Homo sapiens: one gene and its partners. The protein of the gene in region 1 interacts with the protein of each later gene in a biochemical or structural test. Each region holds a gene or a part of one and is shown in the gene's direction. Other genes may lie near its edges.

Evidence for each region. The genes of interacting proteins can lie anywhere in the genome.
Region 2: the proteins of MYOZ1 (region 1) and MAGI2 interact in a test that uses a peptide from one of them, tested with the Homo sapiens proteins (one large-scale study listed by IntAct).
Region 3: the proteins of MYOZ1 (region 1) and GRIP1 interact in a test that uses a peptide from one of them, tested with the Homo sapiens proteins (one large-scale study listed by IntAct).
Region 4: the proteins of MYOZ1 (region 1) and MPP2 interact in a test that uses a peptide from one of them, tested with the Homo sapiens proteins (one large-scale study listed by IntAct).

What each region holds. Positions count from the first base shown.
Region 1 is NC_000010.11:73,630,561-73,635,660, reverse strand, and holds the end of MYOZ1 (myozenin-1), read left to right. Parts: intron 1-927; coding exon 928-1,177; intron 1,178-1,595; coding exon 1,596-1,761; intron 1,762-3,499; coding exon 3,500-3,731; 3' UTR 3,732-4,049; downstream 4,050-5,100. UniProt on the Homo sapiens protein: Myozenins may serve as intracellular binding proteins involved in linking Z-disk proteins such as alpha-actinin, gamma-filamin, TCAP/telethonin, LDB3/ZASP and localizing calcineurin signaling to the sarcomere.
Region 2 is NC_000007.14:79,442,500-79,447,599, reverse strand, and holds part of MAGI2 (membrane-associated guanylate kinase, WW and PDZ domain-containing protein 2), read left to right. Parts: intron 1-5,100. UniProt on the Homo sapiens protein: Seems to act as a scaffold molecule at synaptic junctions by assembling neurotransmitter receptors and cell adhesion proteins. Plays a role in nerve growth factor (NGF)-induced recruitment of RAPGEF2 to late endosomes and neurite outgrowth.
Region 3 is NC_000012.12:66,671,409-66,676,508, reverse strand, and holds part of GRIP1 (glutamate receptor-interacting protein 1), read left to right. Parts: intron 1-5,100. UniProt on the Homo sapiens protein: May play a role as a localized scaffold for the assembly of a multiprotein signaling complex and as mediator of the trafficking of its binding partners at specific subcellular location in neurons.
Region 4 is NC_000017.11:43,899,869-43,904,968, reverse strand, and holds part of MPP2 (MAGUK p55 subfamily member 2), read left to right. Parts: intron 1-475; coding exon of another isoform or gene 476-508; coding exon 509-539; intron 540-3,404; exon of another isoform or gene 3,405-3,685; intron 3,686-4,344; exon of another isoform or gene 4,345-4,416; coding exon of another isoform or gene 4,417-4,498; intron 4,499-5,100. UniProt on the Homo sapiens protein: Postsynaptic MAGUK scaffold protein that links CADM1 cell adhesion molecules to core components of the postsynaptic density. In CA1 pyramidal neurons, required for synaptic KCNN2-containing channel function and long-term potentiation expression.

The sequences.
Region 1 (5,100 bases):
TGTTATCTCAGCACTTTGGGAGGCTGAGGCAGATGGATCACTTGAGCCCAGGAGTTTGAGACCAGCCTGGGCACATGGCAAACCCTGTCTCTAGGAAAAAAAAAAATACAAAATTTAGCTGGGTGTGGTAGCATGCCAGTAGTCCCAGCTACTTGAGAGGCTGAGGTGGGAGGATTGCCTGAGCCAGGGAGGTGGAGGTTGCAGTGAGCCGAGATTGTGTCACTGCACTCCAACCTGGGTGACAGAGCCAGATTCTGTCTCAAAAAGCAAAAGAATTTTTTTTCATTTTTTTTTTTTAAAGCTGGGCAGGCGTGTTGGTCTTTTTTGACTTGTTAAGGATGAGAAAGGGGAGTGTGGAGAACACGCTGCCCTTACCCTAGGTATAACTGGAGGAAACGAGCCAAGGGAGTCCTACCTCTTAAGAAGAGTTTAATTCGGGCTGGGTGCGGTGGCTAACGCCTGTAATCCCGGCACTTTGGGAGGCCGAGGTGGGTGGATCATCTGAGGTCGGAGTTTGAGACCAGCCGGACCAACGTGCAGAAACCCCACCTCTACTAAAAATATATCAAATTAGCCGGGTGTGATGGTGCATGCCTGTAATCCCAGCTACTCGGGAGGCTGAGGCTGGGAATTGCTTGAACCTGGAAGGCTGAGGTTGCGGTGAGCCGAGATCGTGCCATCACACTCCAGCCTGGGCAACAAGGGCGAAACTCTGTCTAAAAAAAACCACAAAAAATCAAACAAACAAAAAGAAGAGTTTAATTCTCTTAGTCAGCCCATGTACTACCCATCAACTGGAGGGGGAAATATCAGAAAATTCAGGGTCTTCTGGTTAGCCACTATTTCTGCCTTTGCTAAACATACCTCTGTTTTTGTATATTTTCCATACCCATTGCTAACCTTCCCCTCACTTTGTCTTCTTTTCAGGATCACTTCCAGAAGTTCCTTCCAACAGTGGGGGGACAGCTGGGCACAGCTGGTCAGGGATTCTCATACAGCAAGAGCAACGGCAGAGGCGGCAGCCAGGCAGGGGGCAGTGGCTCTGCCGGACAGTATGGCTCTGATCAGCAGCACCATCTGGGCTCTGGGTCTGGAGCTGGGGGTACAGGTGGTCCCGCGGGCCAGGCTGGCAGAGGAGGAGCTGCTGGCACAGCAGGGGTTGGTGAGACAGGATCAGGCAAGTACACTCACCCAAGAGTAATGTGTTTGGTCCCTAGAGCAGAGTTGTCCCAGGAATGATGTCTACGCTGAGTGTGGGGAGCAGAGGAGGTCAGTTTAAATATCTTAATATTAAATATAATAATATCAGTTTAAATATCATAAATATCTTGGTGAATTACCTGGGTCCAGGAGTATATAGAGATGTGTCTATTCTACCCAGAAGCCTTGTTTTTCAGTTACTTTCCTGGCTTTTCGGATTCAGTCACAGATCTGCCCACAGACTATCATTATGCCACAAACCTTATACAATTACCAGGATATTATATCTTTAGTCCCTGGCTCTTGCAATTTCCCTAGTGTAGGGGCGTGGGATTACCTTTCATTGGCTACTAAATGCTATTATTTGACTGAATTTTCTCTCCCATGGCTACCAGGAGACCAGGCAGGCGGAGAAGGAAAACATATCACTGTGTTCAAGACCTATATTTCCCCATGGGAGCGAGCCATGGGGGTTGACCCCCAGCAAAAAATGGAACTTGGCATTGACCTGCTGGCCTATGGGGCCAAAGCTGAACTTCCCAAATATAAGTCCTTCAACAGGTAGGGGTGGTGAGGAAGGAACCAGATGCATTCTAGTGTGAGGCACTGTGTCTTTAGTTAGGATGGAGACTAATTCAAATGTTTCAGAAGGAGGCTAAGGAGAGATGGCAGGGATATGGGGGTCCTAATCAAAGGCCCTGCTCTTTTCACTCTATCTCAGCTTCATCATAGCAGTGTGATGAAGGAAAAAATTTGCTGGGAGGCAGGATTTGAATTCTAGCTCAATGGTCATTTATTAGCTGTGTAGGCATGGGAAAATCACTCTACCTCTGAGCCTGGGTTGCTTTGAACGTTACACTTATTTATTTTTTGTCTTTTTTTTGCTTCCTTTTTGTGGAGAATGGGGTCTCGCTATATCGCCCAGGCAGGTCTCGAACTCCTGGGCTCAAGCTATCCTCCCGCCTCTGCCTACCTGAGACCTGGGATTACAGGGGTGAGCCACCGTGCCCGGCCTGCTTTGAATGTTAAATGCGAATAACATTTTACATGTCTGAAGGCCTCTTGAGGCTCTCTTCCATTCAAGGTTAGGATGCCATTATTCTCCCTGTAATATGATTCTATTTCCTTATACTTTTTTCTTTTCTTTCTTTCCTTCTTTTTCTTTGACTCAGTTTTGCTCTTGTTGCCCAGGCTGGAGTGCAGTGGCATGATCTCAGCTCACTGCAACCTCCGCCTCCTGGGTTCAAGTGATTTTCCTGCCTCAGCCTCCCTAGTAGCTGGCATTATAGGCACCCGCCACCACGCCCAGCTAATTTTTGTATTTTTAGTAGAGATGGGGTTTCACCATGTTGACCAGGCTGGTCTCAAACTCCTGACCTCAGGTGATCTGCCCGCCTCGGGCTCCCAAAGTGCTGGGATTACAGGCGTGAGCCACCATGCCTGGCCACCCTGCTTTAGATGGCTCTAAGTCTCTGTTCTTTTGGAATTAGGCTTCTCTAGCCCATGGAGAGGAGGTCTGTGTGAAAGGATAGGGAAGAGCTAGAAAGGTACTCTTGTATTTGGTCCTAAGGAGCCTGGATTTTCCAGGCAACAATAATTACTCTTAGCCAGGCTATCCACTGTCCACTAGGGTTGGAGAGAGGGGGTCTCTATATTGCAATTTTTTTTTTTTTTTTTGAGACAGAGTCTTGCTCTGTTGCCCAGGCTGAAGTGCAGTGGTGCAGTCTCGGCTCACTGCAACCTCCACCTCCTGGGTTCAAGCAATTCCTATACCTCAGCCACCTGAGTAGCTGGGATGACAGGGGTGCGCCACCATGCCCAGCTAATTTTTTTTTGGGGGGGGGGTGTTTGTATTTTTAGTAGAGATGGCGTTTCACCACGTTGACCAGGCTAGTCTCAAACTCCTGGTCTCAAGTGATCCACCCACCTTGGCCTCCCAAAATGCTGGGATTACAGGCGTGAGCCACCGCACCGCACCTGGCCTTTCTACATTGTCATGTAAGGTGACCTCAGGCCCTTGGGTCTATAGTATTTGGGGTCACTTTCTCTGAAATGCTGGTCTGGGTCACAGCTATCCAAGAGTCTCTAGTACACACTAGACTCCTTTTCTCATTATTAGCTTTGGGGAAACAAGCTAACCAGGAAGGCAAAATGGGATGCTAAGGAAGAAGAAGGAGTACAGATGCAATCCCAAACTAGAATTCACAGACTTCCCTATTCTCAAAGAGGGTAGCATCTCATGATAAGGCTCTGTTTCTTTTATTCTGATTCTTAATTAAATAATGTGTCCCCTTCTCAGGACGGCAATGCCCTATGGTGGATATGAGAAGGCCTCCAAACGCATGACCTTCCAGATGCCCAAGTTTGACCTGGGGCCCTTGCTGAGTGAACCCCTGGTCCTCTACAACCAAAACCTCTCCAACAGGCCTTCTTTCAATCGAACCCCTATTCCCTGGCTGAGCTCTGGGGAGCCTGTAGACTACAACGTGGATATTGGCATCCCCTTGGATGGAGAAACAGAGGAGCTGTGAGGTGTTTCCTCCTCTGATTTGCATCATTTCCCCTCTCTGGCTCCAATTTGGAGAGGGAATGCTGAGCAGATAGCCCCCATTGTTAATCCAGTATCCTTATGGGAATGGAGGGAAAAAGGAGAGATCTACCTTTCCATCCTTTACTCCAAGTCCCCACTCCACGCATCCTTCCTCACCAACTCAGAGCTCCCCTTCTACTTGCTCCATATGGAACCTGCTCGTTTATGGAATTTGCTCTGCCACCAGTAACAGTCAATAAACTTCAAGGAAAATGAACTCATTCTTCCTTTGATATTTGAGAGCAGATGAAAGCCGAGGCTAACAATGCACAGAGACTAATTAAAGCCAAATACTAAACATTAATTATGCAAACTTTAAGACAGATCTGAGCTCCAGTTGCTTACACACCTACACCCATACGCACAAAACCACATTCATAGTTACTTACAAAGACGTTTATTCAATAGTACATGAGACAAATAATCACGCACAAACACATGTGCCGGCCCAAATGTTGGCAAAGCTAAAAAGCTGCTGTGCACCGCAGTTGGGAAATGGGTGTTGGTGACCCTGGTGTTCACCCGCTTTATGTAGTTGATTAGAAGCTGGTATAATCAGGGTTATCCTGATTGTCACAGACTAGAGCATGCCATAAAGTTTCCAGATTATACCAAAGTGGGTTTAGGAATATAAGTGTCAAAGATTACACATTCCCAAAAGGATGAAATAGAATAGGGGGCCATGTGGAATCCAGAAGGAAATGGGAGAAACCAGCTACAGTTATAGTATGCCAGGCTCTGTGTTGAACACAGCAAGAAAAGATCTAAGGGTTACAAGGGCACTACAGTGGTACCTAGAAAGCAGTATGGTTGGGAAGAAATCTTAAGAGCCCGATAGGAATGCGCAACAATATTCTTTTTGCTCATTACAAGGATGGGGACTCTCTAAGAGTCCCAGGCCTACTGCCATGTTCCACAAAGTAAGACTAATGCAGATCAGAAAGAATGAAAAGATGGCAATAAGATCTGAGAAAATAACTTCTAAGGAGAGCTGGCTGAATTCAGTCAACTCCATGAGCTGCTAATGGTTAGATTAAGTTTGCCAGAATCTGCATTAGATGGATCATATTTTAGTGCACCTTGGGTCAAATGGCATTTACCCTGGTCATCTTCACTTATAATCTAATGAGCAAATTCCAGAGAATTCATACCCCCTCTAAGCATTTTTTTTTTTTTTTGAGATAGGGTCTCACTCTGTCGCCCAGACTGGAGTGCAGTGAAGTGGTGCAATCTTAGCTCACTGCGGTCTCCACCTCTCAGGTGCAAGTGATCCTCCCACTTCAGACCCCCAAGTAGGTGGCACTACAGGA
Region 2 (5,100 bases), on another chromosome or scaffold:
GTGTATTAATACTGTTACAAGGTGAAGCAACCAACAATACTTCCACTGCTAGCTTCCCCATAATTTTAGCATTTTCGTTGAATTAATCCTATTTTACAGTTCAATGGAAACATCTACCTTGAAGCTCCAGGGTTCAGTATTAATTTCTAAAAATCTCTCCTAGCTATAATCTGGCTATATATTATGACAACAAACATACAACTGCCTTAGTTTAGTGACTTTATTATTACTTACTCCATTCTATTCTCAGCTCTCTTCTGTCTCTAGTAAGTATTTGTTATATTTCCTTTAATAAAAGTAAATTATCTTATATAGAAAACTTAGTAATATAATAATTGCTGAATTTACATTGTTAAAGACTTGCATAGGGACATACATAGTACAATGTCCATATCATCATAGATAATTAATAAAAATTGCTTTTATTATTACGTCTTACTGACATCTTTGTCAACTCTAAAAGGACTTCATATTGAGATATTTTTAAAAAAGTTAAAATTTGTGTTAAGTTTAATATATATTGTTGACTGTTTTGAGTGGTCTGGAAGAAACAATAAAAGTTTCCTTCTTTGATAAGTTATTGAATATTAACTCAATTGCATCCCATTGATGTACTTTTATTTTTTCACTTATTTATTATTTTTTTTTGAGACGGAGTCTCGCTCTGTCGTCCAGGCTGGAGTGCAGTGGCGTGATCTCAGCTCACTGCAATCTCCGCCTCCCGGGTTCACGCCATTCTCCTGCCTCAGCCTCCTGAGTAGCTGGGACTACAGGTGCCCGCCATCCACGCCCGGTTAATGTTTTTGTATTTTTAGTAGATATGGGGTTTCACCGTGTTAGCCAGGATGGTCTTGATCTCCTGACCTCGTGATCCACCTGCTTCGGTCTCCCAAAGGGCTGGGATTACAGGTGTGAGCCACTGCGCCCAACCCCCATTGATATACTTTCAAAGATCCATTAGGCTAATGAGTGGGTGATTTATATGAATGGCTAGATTTGTTTCAATATTTGAAATAATTAGATGGCTTGCTCTACCTGGGGAAATAATTTCTCCATGTAATCGTTACATGAATCCTTATGAGGTTTTATGCCATTTTTATTTATTTTGGCTTACTTTAAAAAAAAAATCACTGTCAAAACCATGGCAGTTTGAGCCTAAATACTTGCTATACTTTGGATATATCATTGGATATACCCAAACACAGATATGTTACAGAAGAAAAAAATAAACCTTTATAGTGCAAAGAGAGATTTTGTCTATGTTGAATTTTCTTCTTTTTTTAATTGTACTTTAAATTTCGGGGTACACGTGCTCAACGTGCAGGTTAGTTACATATGTATACATGTGCTATGCTGGTGTGCTACACCCATTAACTTGTCATTTAACATTAGGTATATCTGCTAATGCTATCCCTCCCCCCTCCTCCCACTGCACAACAGGCCCAGGTGTGTGATGTTCCCCTTCCTGTGTCCATGTGTTCTCATTGTTCAGGTCCCACCTATGAGTGAGAACATGCGGTGTTTGGTATTTTGTCCTTGTGATAATTTGCTGAGAATGACGGTTTCCAGCTTCACCCATGTCCCTACAAAGGACATGAACTCATCCTTTTTTGTGGCTGCATAGTATTCCATGGTGTATATGTGCCACATTTTCTTAATCCAGTCTATCATTGTTGGACATTTGGCTTGGTTCCAAGTCCTTGCTATTGTGAATAGTGCCACAATAAACATATGTGGGCATGTGTCTTTATAGAAGCATGACTTATAATCCTTTGGGTATATACCCAGTAATTGGATGGCTGGGCCAAATGGTATTTCTAGTTCTAGATCCCTGAGGAATTGCCACACTGACTTCCACAATGGTTGAACTAGTTTACAGTCCCACCAACAGTGTAAAAGTGTTCCTGTTTCTCCACATCCTCTCCAGCGCCTGTTGTTTCCTGACTTTTTAATGGTTGCCATTCTAACTGGTGTGAGATGGTATCTCATTGTGGTTTTGATTTGCACTTCTCTGATGGCCAGTGATGATGAGCATTTTTTCATGTGTCTTTTGGTTTCATAAATGTCATCTTTTGAGAAGTGTCTGTTCATATCCTTTGCCCACTTTTTAATGGGGTTGTTTGTTTTTTTCTTGTAAATTTGTTTGAGTTCACTGTAGATTCTGGATATTAGCCCTTTGTCAGATGGATAGACTGCAAAAATTTTCTCCCATTCTGTAGGTTGCCTATTCACTCTGATGGTAGTTTCTTTTGCTGTGCAGAAGCTCTTTAGTTTAATTAGATCCCATTTGTCAATTTTGGATTTTGTTGCCATTGCTTTTGGTGTTTTAGACATGAAGTCCTTGCCCCTGCCTATGTCCTGAATGGTATTGCCTAGGTTTTCTTCTAGGGTTTTTATGGTTTTAGGTCTAACATTTAAGTCTTTAATCCATCTTGAATTAATTTTTATATAAGGTATAAGGAAGAGATCCAGTTTCAGCTTTCTACATATGGCTAGCCAGTTTTCCCAGCACCATTTATTAAATAGGGAATCCTTTCCCCATTGCTTGTTTTTCTCAGGTTTGTCAAAGATCAGAGAGTTGTAGATATGCGGCATTATTTCTGAGGGCTCTGTTCTGTTCCATTGGTCTATATCTCTGTTTTGGTACCAGTACCATGCTGTTTTGGTTACTGTAGCCTTGTAATATAGTTTGAAGTCAGATAGCGTGATGCCTCCAGCTTTGTTCTTTTGGCTTAGGATTGACTTGGCAATGCAGGCTCTTTTTTGGTTCCATATGAACTTTAAAGTAGTTTTTTTCCAATTCTGTGAAGAAAGTCATTGGTAGCTTGGTGGGGATAGCATTGAATCTATAAATTACCTTGGGCAGTATGGCCATTTTCACAATATTGATTCTTCCTACCCATGAGCATGGAATGTTCTTCCATTTGTTTGTATCCTCTTTAATTTCATTGAGCAGTGGTTTGTAGTTCTCCTTAAAGAGGTCCTTCACGTCCCTTGTAAGGTGGATTCCTAGGTATTTTATTCTCTTTGAAGCAATTGTGAATGGGAGTTCACTCATGATTTGACTCTGTGTTTGTCTGTTATTGGTGTATAAGAATGCTTGTGATTTTTGCACATTGATTTTGTATGCTGAGACTTTGCTGAAGTTGCTTATCAGCTTAAGGAGATTTTGGGCTGAGATGATGGGGTTTTCTGATATACAATCATGTCATCTGCAAACAGGGACAATTTGACTTCCTCTTTTCCTAATTGAATACTCTTTATTTCCTTCTCCTGCCTGATTGCCCTGGCCAGAACTTCCAACACTATGTTGAATAGGAGTGGTGAGAGAGGGCATCCCTGTCTTGAGCCAGTTTTCAAAGGGAATGCTTCCAGTTTTTGCCCATTCAGTATGATATTGACTGTGGGTTTGTCATAGATAGCTCTTATTATTTTGAGATACGTCCCATCAATACCTAATTTATTGAGAGTTTTTAGCATGAAGCGTTGTTGAATTTTGTCAAAGGCCTTTTCTGCATCTATTGAGAAAATCATATGGTTTTTATTGTTGGTTCTGTTTATATGCTGGATTACGTTTATTGATTTGCGTATGTCTAATGAAAAAATTTGTAGAAGAAATTTTATCAACCTCATAACTGCCTTATAGTGAAACACATGCATATGACATCAGGAATTTTTCTGTAAGTACCATGGATTTTATTAAGTGACTCTGTGAAATGAAGCAGAAAGAAACAAAACTATTTAATTAAAAATCAAAATGTATATTTAAAAATCTATTTTTATATTACATTGTGTTTGAAGATGTTTGTTAAAAAGTAAATTTCCCAATTCCAGCATAAATTGAATTATTTATATTGCCATGGATCAAGTGTAGCACAAAAACTGTTTATACTTTACATTGTCACTTAATAGATCACAGGGAATGTCTGAGTAAAAATAATACAAAAACAATTGCATACATTTTTAACATTTTGCATTTTACAAGTGAGTATTTTTGCTTATATGAGTATTTTGTGTTGCTATGTGGAGGATAATAAGTGCTATAGAAACCCACAGATTAATCTAGTGACATACCCTAAACTTGTCAAATCTGATTAGCTGGATTTTGTAAACACCAATAAGTTTCAGAGATATGAATTGTCCAATGTTGCTTTTTGTGAAGTTTTTCTTTTGTTTTGTTTTGTTTTTTTAAGAAGGAGTCTCGCTTTGCTTTTCTTCAGTCTAGTGTGGGAGTCACCCCAGTGAACAACAAATTTGTTCTGCATCTTTAGGTACATGGAATACACACACACACACACACACACACACACACACGCACACACACACACACACACACTTCAAACACTAAGGTTCAGGCTGGAGTATAGTGGCATCATCTCTGCTCACAGAGACCTCCGACTCCTGGGTTCAAGTGATTCTTCTGCCTCAGCATCCCAAGTAGCTGGGTCTACAGGCACCCACCATCACACCCGGCTAATTTTTGTATTTTTACTAGAGATGGGGTTTTACCATGTTGGCCAGGCTGGTCTTGAACTCCTGACCTCAAGTGATCTGCCCACCTCTGCCTCCCAAAGTGCTGGGATTACAGGCGTGAGTCACCATGCCCAGCCTTCTGATCTGCATTCTGATCTGCAATACCTAATTTCCTTTTTTTTTTTCACAGTCTATGATGTAAGGATGTTAAACTCTTTGCTAGACAAAGTTTCTTCAAAACATAGCAAGTATTTAGGCTTGGAGGGTCACTAAAATGTTCCAAAAGTCTTGGCTAATTTCTAAAAACACCCTGAACATAGATAACGGTAATCTTACCATTCTAGCAAGTCATATACTTAGGGAGTAGACATTTTGTGTGTGTGAAGAGTGAAGGCTGAATGAGCAGAAGAAAATTGATTACCTCTTCTGGAAGAGCAAGAGCTTTATCAAAGATCCTATTACCTACTAGCAGTTAAAATACTCAAGTCCTCTTTCTTAGTGTTTCTTCTGAAACAGTATCTATAGTTGGATCTCCTTTTTCTCTTTAGTTGGAAGTTCCTATGCTTTGCTCTTCTTCAGTCTAGCGTGGGAGTCACCCTAGTGAACAACAGATTTGTTCTGCATCTT
Region 3 (5,100 bases), on another chromosome or scaffold:
AGCTCTTAGGAAATGCTTCAAGAGCTTTATTAGGCCTCTTGTGGCTAAAACCTTACCCAGATCTTAGCAGGGGGAAGTTTGCTTCATGACTCCAAAACTACCTTGCTATTTGTGGTTGATATCACCCACAAGAAAAAGCAATATGGCAATTGCAATTTCTTCTTAATTTTCTTAAGGAGAAAATGATGGAATAAAAGGGAAACAATTTTCTACAAACACCCACATTCTTGATATTTTTACTTGATTCTTACATTCTTCATATATCTAATACATACTTAACAAATATCGATTAAGTACCTACTATGTGCCAGACACTGACATTTTTGCACTTAGAATTCTGGGCTGGGACAATTTATAGGTGTAAAAAGCATTTTTAAAATGAATATATTATTGAACAATAAATATTTTTTCTTTAGGTCAGATGTAATTTTAAAAGATGTATAAAACATGTATTTCTAGACAAGTCCTTGGATCACTCCACATAGACACTGATCCACAGTATTATAGTAGAATATATTTCAGGTAAACTTAGCACTTCTCTGACTTGGGAATTGAGTCATTTTCTTATTAATGTTTCAAGCCACTGTTTCAATCATTTTGCCTTATCAGGTACCTACCAATGTAGAACAAGAGCAAGAAAATAACCTTTACCCAAAAGGCCCATGCCTGCCATTATGAGAGGAACTTTGGTTCATGAAAACACCAAGCACCGTCAAAAGCATTCCGTTTCCCATCTAATATTGAAATCTAAAGAAGCAATGCCGTTCTTTTCTTCCTCCAGAATGAGAGTCTACCAATTACCCAACCTTAGAGCCAAATCCCAAAATAACATTTTGTGAGGTTTCCAGAGACATCTGACAAAAGGGTTTTCTGGAGTGGGTAAATCTAGGCTTCTTGGCACCTACCTTCACAGCTGTTTACCTGGGACAGCCCTGGTTTCTCAGCTAGGGGCTACCATACCTCAGGGGAAGGGAGTATGTTCTCAGAGAAGGGGAGATATTTTCATGGCTCCCACAGACTTTGTTCTTTTTCTCTTGTCATGATTGTGTGATTACTTTTCCTTGAGACAGTTTGGCCTCATATGCAGAGAATCACTTTCTCTGGTGATATGGGATGTGACTCTGCTGCTTGCTCAGGTGCTGCCATTTTGAGCTCCGAGATCTGAACTTTCGTGCTCCACTGGCAATGGCATTTTTCTTTCACAAGCTTCACTCTGCCTACCAATGCCAACATCAGCCAATTAATATTTACTGACATTCCACAGGGAGCACGGCTCTGGGCACCTTTCATTGTTTTGCTGCCACCCACCCTCTCTCTCTGTCTTTTCTCTACTGGCTCAAAGCTCATGTCGGAAACCTTTGCCTTCACTTTAGTATAGACTTCAACATTTTTCATCATAGCTGGCCTACGTGTCATTTTATTTTCTACTTATCTTCACTTTCTCTCTCTTCCCAAATACACATATGGCCTAAAATAGAATTAACTCTCCCTGTCCCTTTCCCACTAACAAACTATAAGCAGCCCCGTTGACCTTCATCCCAATGGGGTGTCTAAGTGAGACATCTGTGGCTGGCAGGGAACTGCTCCCTGCTGTGCATTCTACTTTCTTTCTCTCTCCCTCTCTTCTTCCTGATTTCTCCTCCCAACCTCAGTATCTTTTCTCCTTTTCTGCTGTCTGGGCATGTATGGGTATTGCTCTCTCCACTGGCACTGAGCAAGATTAAAAGGCTGGGTTGTGATCACACTCACTCTCATTTTTTCAGTCATTGTTCCTTACACTTACCCCAATCATGGAATCATTATGCTTGAAAGGGAAGGTCAGACATTCGTCTAGGACTTGTTTCCAGAGAGAACTGAAACTCAACCATCTCAGACAACCAGTAATCTTATTCTCAATTCTCTCTGACAAGAACAATCTCACAGTTTGTCTGATAAACTTTTAATGGATTACTCAGGTGACGTCTAAATCCCTTTAAACTCTGACACTCATCCTGTGTTTAAAAGTTCTTCTATTTAGAAACTCATTTCCTAAGTGTAATCTTAATTAAAGAAACACATTTAAATGTTTTGTCTTAATGGAAGAGGAAAAATATTTCCCATCTTTTCTCATCTGCAGAATCTTTTAATCCAAGGAATTCTGAATCCATCACAGAGTTCAGTATCAGTGTTCCAAACCTGATGGCTCCTTTGCTGGTGGCCTTGGATTTTCTGTTCTGGTCACTTTGCTCTTTCCCATCTGTCTGTGTCTAGCCTTGTGGTTCCTTCAGCAGTCTTCTCTAATGATTCCTCATCCACTCTGTGATATGATTCAGAACTGATCATCATCTGGGTTGAGAATGCTCTCTCTCTCTGTGCTGGACCTCATTTCTCCTGTCTCCCCATCCTCATCCATTCTGCTAACCCTCGCTGGCCTTCTCTGTCAGATCCTGCCATCTGGAACAACTTAACTGTATCCTCCACCTCGTTAACTTTCCACCCCTTTCCAAATCTCACCTGCAACCATGTCCTTTCTGCTTTGCCTCCACCCCTTCATTTCATGCCATCAAAGCTAGTGCATTTAACGTATTTATCTTTCTAGCCTATCAACTTTTTAAAATAATATGCACTTAATAGATATTTCACAAAGTAAGTCTGTCTTGTTTTATTGGAGTTTCATCTATTGCTAGGGCATGGGGCATATTTCTCTTGCAAATAGAGAGACCCCACTTGAACAGGAGAATGCTGCAGCTGGGTCCCAGGCAGGTCTTGTTCTCGCGCAAGTGCTGCTCGTGGTCCAGATTGTGATGGATTTCTTGCTGTGCTTCTAGCCCATGCTTTGAGGGAGTTTACATTGAACAGTGGCTTGGACCGCTTTACTCTCCACTGGACTGAAGCTTTTCGTTTATATAACTAGTTAGAATTATCATAATGGCGCATTTATTTCTCCCCTGTCTTCCAAATGGGAATTGGATGCTAGAAATACTTTACCTCGTTCCAGGAGGTACCCATCCTCCAGAGGAAATTTTGGCTATGCCTTGTATGACCCCATATAAACAAGAAGGAGTCTACACCCTTCTTATATGATTGTAGCAGGTTAGGAAGAAATATCTGGTTCATTACTGGGAAAAGGAGGGCCAATGTAGGATAGGCATTCTAATCGATTAACTTATATACTTTTGGGAAATGTTTAGGAGGAAGAATGGAAATAAGGATAGCTAACATTTATTGAGCACTTACTTTCTGCCAGGTACTATTCTAAACATTTTACATGTACTAACTCATTTAAATCTTGCAATATTATCGTCATTATCCCCACCATACAGATGAAAAAGAAGAGGTTCAGAGAAGTTAAGAATCATTCCTAAGATCACAAGTGGAGGACAGGAGGAACCCCAGTGTTTCATTTTTGCCATTTTTTTTCTCTTCTAGAAACGGATAGAAACCATAGACCTGCCTATCTAGAATAATAAAGAGAAATTAATCAAGACAACACCACACTAATCTCTCAGCATTCCTTATGGTAGGGGAAATAGAATAGACTTAGAAATTAGAAGATATGTCAACCTTTCCTAGCTTTCCTATTTTTACTTGTGTGGCAAAAACAAACAAACAAAAAAACTGAATTTCCCCCACTAAATTTCAGTTTCTTAATCTGTAAATTAAAAATTACTTGTGAAAACTGTTTTATACTCATGTTAGCTATAACAAAATGATTTAATTTTCTACTACAGTTGATTTATTTGAAATTCTTATATTAGTAAATTCACTTTATTCTGGCGGAAAATATATAATTTGATAACTTCCCACTATTTGAGAGGAGGCAAAATACATAGTTTCTAGGGATAGGCAAGCCGTCAGTGTTTGAAACTCATCTTTTTCTCTCTTTTAGTTTCTTACCACTTTTTTGCCCATATACATGAGAATTATGTTAAATTTAAAATTAGTAACTGCTGCTTTATTAAATATACAGAAGAAAATCTTATTTGCAGATTTTTAAAATAATTATTTGTTTCAGTATCGCATATATCCAAAAAAAAAATGCACCCAGATATTTATTACATGTAGCTCCTTAAAGGATGTTACTGCACCCTTCAAACCAAGGAAACTTTGACCTTGCCATTACAAAAAGCAATAAAAGCAGTGGTCTTGGATGTCTCAGTCAATGATGACCACCTAAATTCAGGCAAAGCTCGGGGTATTAGAAAGTGAGAAAGAGCTTCTTACTAATAATTCCAACTACATTATTAAATAGCTGAATATATGAAGAATACAATAAGTTACATTTGTACTAAGGAAATTTCTATTCATTTTCAAAACAGATGAATTAGGAGAAAAGGTAAAACTAAATATCACTAAAGATATGTTGTCATCATAATAATGGAAACCAATGGAGGAAAACAAATTGATTTACAAATTATTATGCTTTTTAATAAGTTGAAATTATATGTATAATACATGTTTTGTCTTACATCTTCTTCCTAATATTCTGCCCATTTGTGCACATTAGCACACACTTGTCATAGGAAACTGTTACTGTCTCTGTAGTATTTCCTTATGTGGATAATATATCTTTAGTTTGTTTCCCAGTTTTCAGTCTAATACATGATACTGAATTGTCTTTAAAGAATTTATTTTGTGCTTTAAATTGTTGCCTTCATGTATCTTCACTTTCAAGTCTTCTGATACATATTGTCTGAGAAATGTGTTTAGGATACACGTCCCACACATTTTCCCCAAGGCTTTCTTAAGCTAATAGAGGTGGCAGAGAGAAAAACAGTGGGAGAAATAGCGTTTGGATACCGTAATATCTAAAAACCAAAGCAAAGATGAGAGAAGGAGAGGCGAGAAGCAGCCCTTCTGTTTTGTAAGTGGGTCATTGCTGACCTTTGAGAGAACAGTTTTCACAGGGTATTGATGTCCAAACCAGATTATAAGGATTCTCTGCATTAAAGGCAACAAGGGCAGACCACTCTTTTAAGAAGTCTGAAGGTGAAAGTTAGGCTGTAGATGGGCAGCAGCCTGTGGGGGTGGAGGGCGGGGTCATGGGGGATAAGGAAGGCTATTATAGGATGGGAGAAATCTGAGCATTTTTTAAAAGGATAGAACCAGTAGGGAGGTAAA
Region 4 (5,100 bases), on another chromosome or scaffold:
CCTGGGCTCAGGTGATTCTCCTGCCTCAGCCTCCTAAAGTGCTGGGATTATAGGCGTGAGCCACCTTGCTCAGCCAAATTATAGTCTTACCCTCTAAAAATTCTACTTGTTTCCTCTTCAAAAAACAAACAAACAAAAAATACAACAGGAAGAAACACTTTATTTATATACTTATTTTTGAGTCATAAAACCTGGATTTTCATTTTAGCTCTCCTTATTAGCTTTGTGAACTTGGGCAAATCAGTTAACCTCCCTTATCCTCCCTGGTCTCCTCCTCCTCAGAGAAATAGGCGAGTAATACCTGCTCTTCCTGCTTCCCAGGACCGTTGGAATCATTGTTGTTCTCCAACCCCCACTTTCTGGGCAGCACCTTCTCCCCTACCTTTCTGGCTCGTCCTGAAGGGGAGGCTCTTCCTATTCCCTTCCCCATTGCTTTGCCCTTGTATCTGCTCATCCTCCTCTCTCCCCTCTCCAGGAGAGACGTTTCAGAGCCCTTGCCTCCTTCACCATGCCGGTTGCCGCCACCAACTCTGAAACTGGTAAGAAGGGGGTGAGGATGTTAGCTTATTTCAGTGGTTCAGAGGGTGCCAGGCGAGGACTTAGGGGTGGGCACTTGCACAGCTCCAGATAAGAACCAACTGGCTCCACTGCTGTCCACCCTACCACTCAGCCATTCCTTCTGGCAGCTGCTGTGGCCATCTCCTCTGTGTGGGTTCCTGTGCTGGAACGGAGAAGAGAAAGAATAAGACCCATACCTGCTCCAGTGTAGGGCTGGAGCACAACTCACCTCCGTGGAGGGCAGGGGATGCATGCTCCAGAGGTGACCCGTACTATTGCTGGAGGGCAGTGGCATAGGACCAGGCCTTCAGGAGGTGGCCCCGGAGCTGGGCCTTGGAGAATGGCTTGGGGGTGGAGGGATTACAGCAGCACAGCCTGGGGCTGAGAAGTCCATAATCGCTGCCCACTAGGCCAGCATGTGCCAGAGGTGGACAGGGGGTACTGGGGACCAGGAAGCTGTGAGTGAAGGAACAAGAATACCAGGTTAGGATACCTGGACGTGGCTCTGTAGGAGGCATTAGGACAAGGGAGTGGGCCACTCAGACAAACTAGCAAAGCCTCAGTGGCAAACTGCTTAACCTCTTGGAGCTCGCATTTCTTCTTCTGTAAAGAGGCTGCTGTGAGACGCAAAGGCTGTAATGGGAGAGCACATTACTTTTAGGAATAGTCATAATTATTATGCTGCTGTTGCTGCCGCTGCCACCAAGTTGTTGTTGTTGTTTTTGAGACAAGTTCTGGCTCTTTAGCCTAGGCTGGAGTGCAGTGGCGCAAGCTTGGCTCACTGCAACCTCTGCCTACCAGCCTCAAGTCATTCTCCCACCTCAGCCTCCCAAGTAGCTGGGACTACAGGTGTGCACCACCATGCCCAGCTAATTTTTGTATTTTTCGTAAAGACAAAAATGTTGCCCATGCTGGTCTCAAACTCCTGAGCTCAAGTACTCCACCCGCCTCGACCTCCCAAACTACTGGGATTACAGGTGTGAACCACTGTGCCTGGCCTGAGTTGTTATTTTGGCATTAACCCTGTGTCCTTGAAACAGTCACCTCCTTTTGAAGACCTGAGATTTCCCTAAGATGAGATGATGGGACAAGATCAGTGTTCTTAACTTTTTTCTTTTTCTTTTTTTTTTTTTTTGAGATGGAGTCTCCCTCTGTTGCCCAGGCTGGAGGGCAGTGGTGGGATCTCGGCTCACTGCAACCTTCACCTCCCAGGTTCAAGTGATTCTCCTGCCTCAGCCTCCCAAGTAGCTGGGATTACAGGCACCTGCTATCATGCCCAGCTAATTTTTGTATTTTTGTAGAGACTGGGTTTCACCATGTTGGCCAGGCTGTCCTGACCTCAGGTGATCCACCTGCCTTGGCCTCCCAAAGTGCTGGGATTACAGGCATGAGCCACCACACCTGGCCTGTTCTTAATTTTATTGGTCCTGAGTCACTTAGAATCTGGTGACAGCAGTGAGCCCTCATCGTAGACATATACATCCATGCACAAAAGGTATATTCTACTCTAGGGGATCATGGATTCCCGTAGTGCACGCAGGACCCCAGAAGGTTAAGTTCCCTGTGCTAGAGGCCCTCTGAGGCCCGGGCAGCTGGGAACTGCTATGGTTCTGCTCTGAGTTGTCTGAACTTCCCCCTGCCTGGATGCCTCCCTCCCATGCAGCTCCTTCCCTTGCTCTAGGCCCCACTACTGCCTCTGCCAGAGGTTCCAGGGCTGCCACTTTGGGTAGAATGATTCCTCTGTGCCTCCTCTCCGAGAAAGTGAAGGGAGTGAGCCAGGGCCTAAACTGTGGTACACTTGTCCAGGAAAGGCCTCTTCTCCTTGCAGTGGAGGGATGGCACCAATGTCCCCAGCTTCTGCAGCATCAGAGGGCTCAGTCCCCCATCTCCTGTCCAGCCTGCTGGGCTCCCTGGGGTCTCCCTGCCTCTTTCAGCCTGCCTAGGCCCCACTGTAAGCTGCTTAGGCATTAATTAAACCCACCCCTGAGCCTGTGCTTAATGGCCTCTCCAGCCGGGACTGCCCAGTAAACCCACCAATAGTGCCTGACTGGGGCGTAGGAGGAGGAGCAAGCCCAGCAATTTGGCTTCGTTGTTGCAGACCACTTGATGGGGGCGTGGTGGGGGAGGATGGGGGACAGGGAGTGGAGCCTTGGGGTGTGGCGGTGGGTTCTGCTTCCTCAAAGGACTCCTGGGGCTCCTGCTCCCCTTCATGTTGTTCGAGGGGCTGCTCCTGGCTTCTCATATTCAAAGGAAGAAGTACAAAGTGTTTTTCTTCCTTCAGGCAGCCTCTGTCCTATCCTGAGCTACATTAGCTCCCAGCTTCAAAAATCTAATGGTGGATTCTGCCCCTTATTATCTGGTGGTCATTATACTTCCCACAGGATAGAGAGACAGCTGTGTCCCTGCCTCTGAGTTCAGGCTCCCCTTCCCTCCTCCTCCCCTGGGAGATCCCTGCCTTGGACTCTGCAAAGGGCAAAGCTAATAAGATCCTTTTTCCGCCCTTCCCCATGGGTCAGTATGGTTGAAGGGAGGGAAAGGGTATGGGTGTATTCCTCTTGCAGGGAGACCCCATATCTACTTTGGGTAGAGTCAGGGGCCCTTTTCCTGAGACTTGGGAGATAAATGGACAGTGGCACTGGGCTGAGAACTTAGAGATCCTGAACCTGGCATCTCCTGACCTGCAGCCTTGCTCCCTCTTCCCCTGTCACCAGATTCCCTCCCTTTTTTGGATCAAGGCTGGGATATGTGGCTGCTTTCAGGTGGAGCTGTCCCTTTAAATCTCTCCTCCATCCCTGGGTTACTGTCCTGGTGTGTAATTCTACTGTCATGGCAACCAGGGGTGCAATGCGACCTGGTGCCACTCCTCAGGGAATGTCTGAGTGGAGGCTGCAGTACCCTGATGGTGGCCTCTTGGGCACAAGATCTCAGAGGAATGGGGTCACCGGAGCGGAGCTGAGTCCTTCCCTTCTGCCCACACTTTTCCCTGTGTGCAAATGTGCCCTCATTTTTCCTTTCTGGGGAACTGAGTTCCAAGATGCCTGACTTGCTTCCTGGGCATCATCCCCTTCATTAAGAGGAAGAACTCATGGGAGATGGGGGAGGGGAAGAAGCTGCTGTGAGGCGAGGGGTAAGCAGGGCTGGGGCACCATCCCTACCCACAGCGATGCCACCTCCCCCACGTACCCTGCCTCCCAGTGGCTGACCAAGGGTGGGTAGGGGGAGGCGTCTGAGGCTTGAGGTATTTGCCCCATGCCCAAGTGAGGCTGCCTCCCGGTGGAGGGCTGAGTCGTTCTTGGGGACTTCCTTAGACTGAGGGACTATTGTAAAGGAAACAGGGCCTGGAGAGGGGACTGAGAGCAGAGGTCAGAGGGCATAGGGAGGAGGTGGCATGGGGTGTATTAGAGGAGGGGCTTCTAGAAAAGAGGGTACAGGGACAAGATGGGCCAAGACTTTTCTCCCTCGGGTCTCCTGAAGCTGGCTGTGAGGGGAGGGTCTCGGAGTACCGCGCCAGTCTTGAAGGGGCAGCATGCCTACCCCCTCCTCAAAACTTCCTGTTAGCCGCCTCCTCCCCATCCCCACCGACACTGACATGCTGGGGATCGGGCAATCTGTGGGACTAGGGCTCCCTCCCACCACTCTTCTCCCACCCGGGTTACCGCCTGCTCTGCACCGCGCAGCGCCAGTCAGGGCTTTAGCCAATCAGCAAGGCGGTCACGGCGGCTGAGCCTTCCCATTGGCTGGTTCCTCAGAGGGCGCTCCTCGACTCCCGCCTTCCCCAGCCCGGCCAGGCTTTGGCTGGGGAGGCGGTAGACGGCGGCGTGTAGGACGCTCCGGGAGTCCCCGGGTCTGGGGGCCGCCATGGCAGGCAGCCCAGGCAGCGGGGTCTCCTTGGAGGGTATATCCCTGGAGTCTTCTGAGGAAGCGGAGCTCCAGAGGGAAGGTAGGGAAGGGCGGGCCAGATGGGGGCGGGGCAGCTGGCCCCTTAGCCTACCTTCCTCCAGCAGAGTCGGGGCATCTGGGGAGGGTGGCCTGGGAGAGGTCATCTGAGGGCACCTTCAGGAGAGCTGTCCTGGGCAGAGGGCACCAACTCCCTTGGCTCAGTCCTCCCCTAGATAACGGAGGGAATCTGGCATACCCTGGCAGGAAGGGAAGGGTCCCTGCCCTGGCCTCTTTCAGAGCCCACTGAGGGCCTCGCAGGTCTCTGACCAATGCCAAGCCCCGGCCTGGGCAAGAGGGGTCTGAAGGGCAAGCTTGCACTTTTTTTTCTGGAGAAGGCAGGGAGCAGGAGGAGGAAGGAGATGGGAGTCCAGGAGTCCCTGAACCATCTCTGCCAGCTCCAGTTCCAGTGCCCCCTCCTCCCCACTCCTGTTCCTTCCTGGAGGAGGGGGGCACTGACAAGAGCATTGAGAGGCGCCAGGGGTGCATCCTCCGCCGTCCTCCGTGGCTTGGGTACTGTTATGCAGATGTAGGCATGGGCGGCATGGTGGCAGAGTAATGATACCCTTCGCCCATCTCTGCCCCCAGCTGGGCACATTCTGCTTC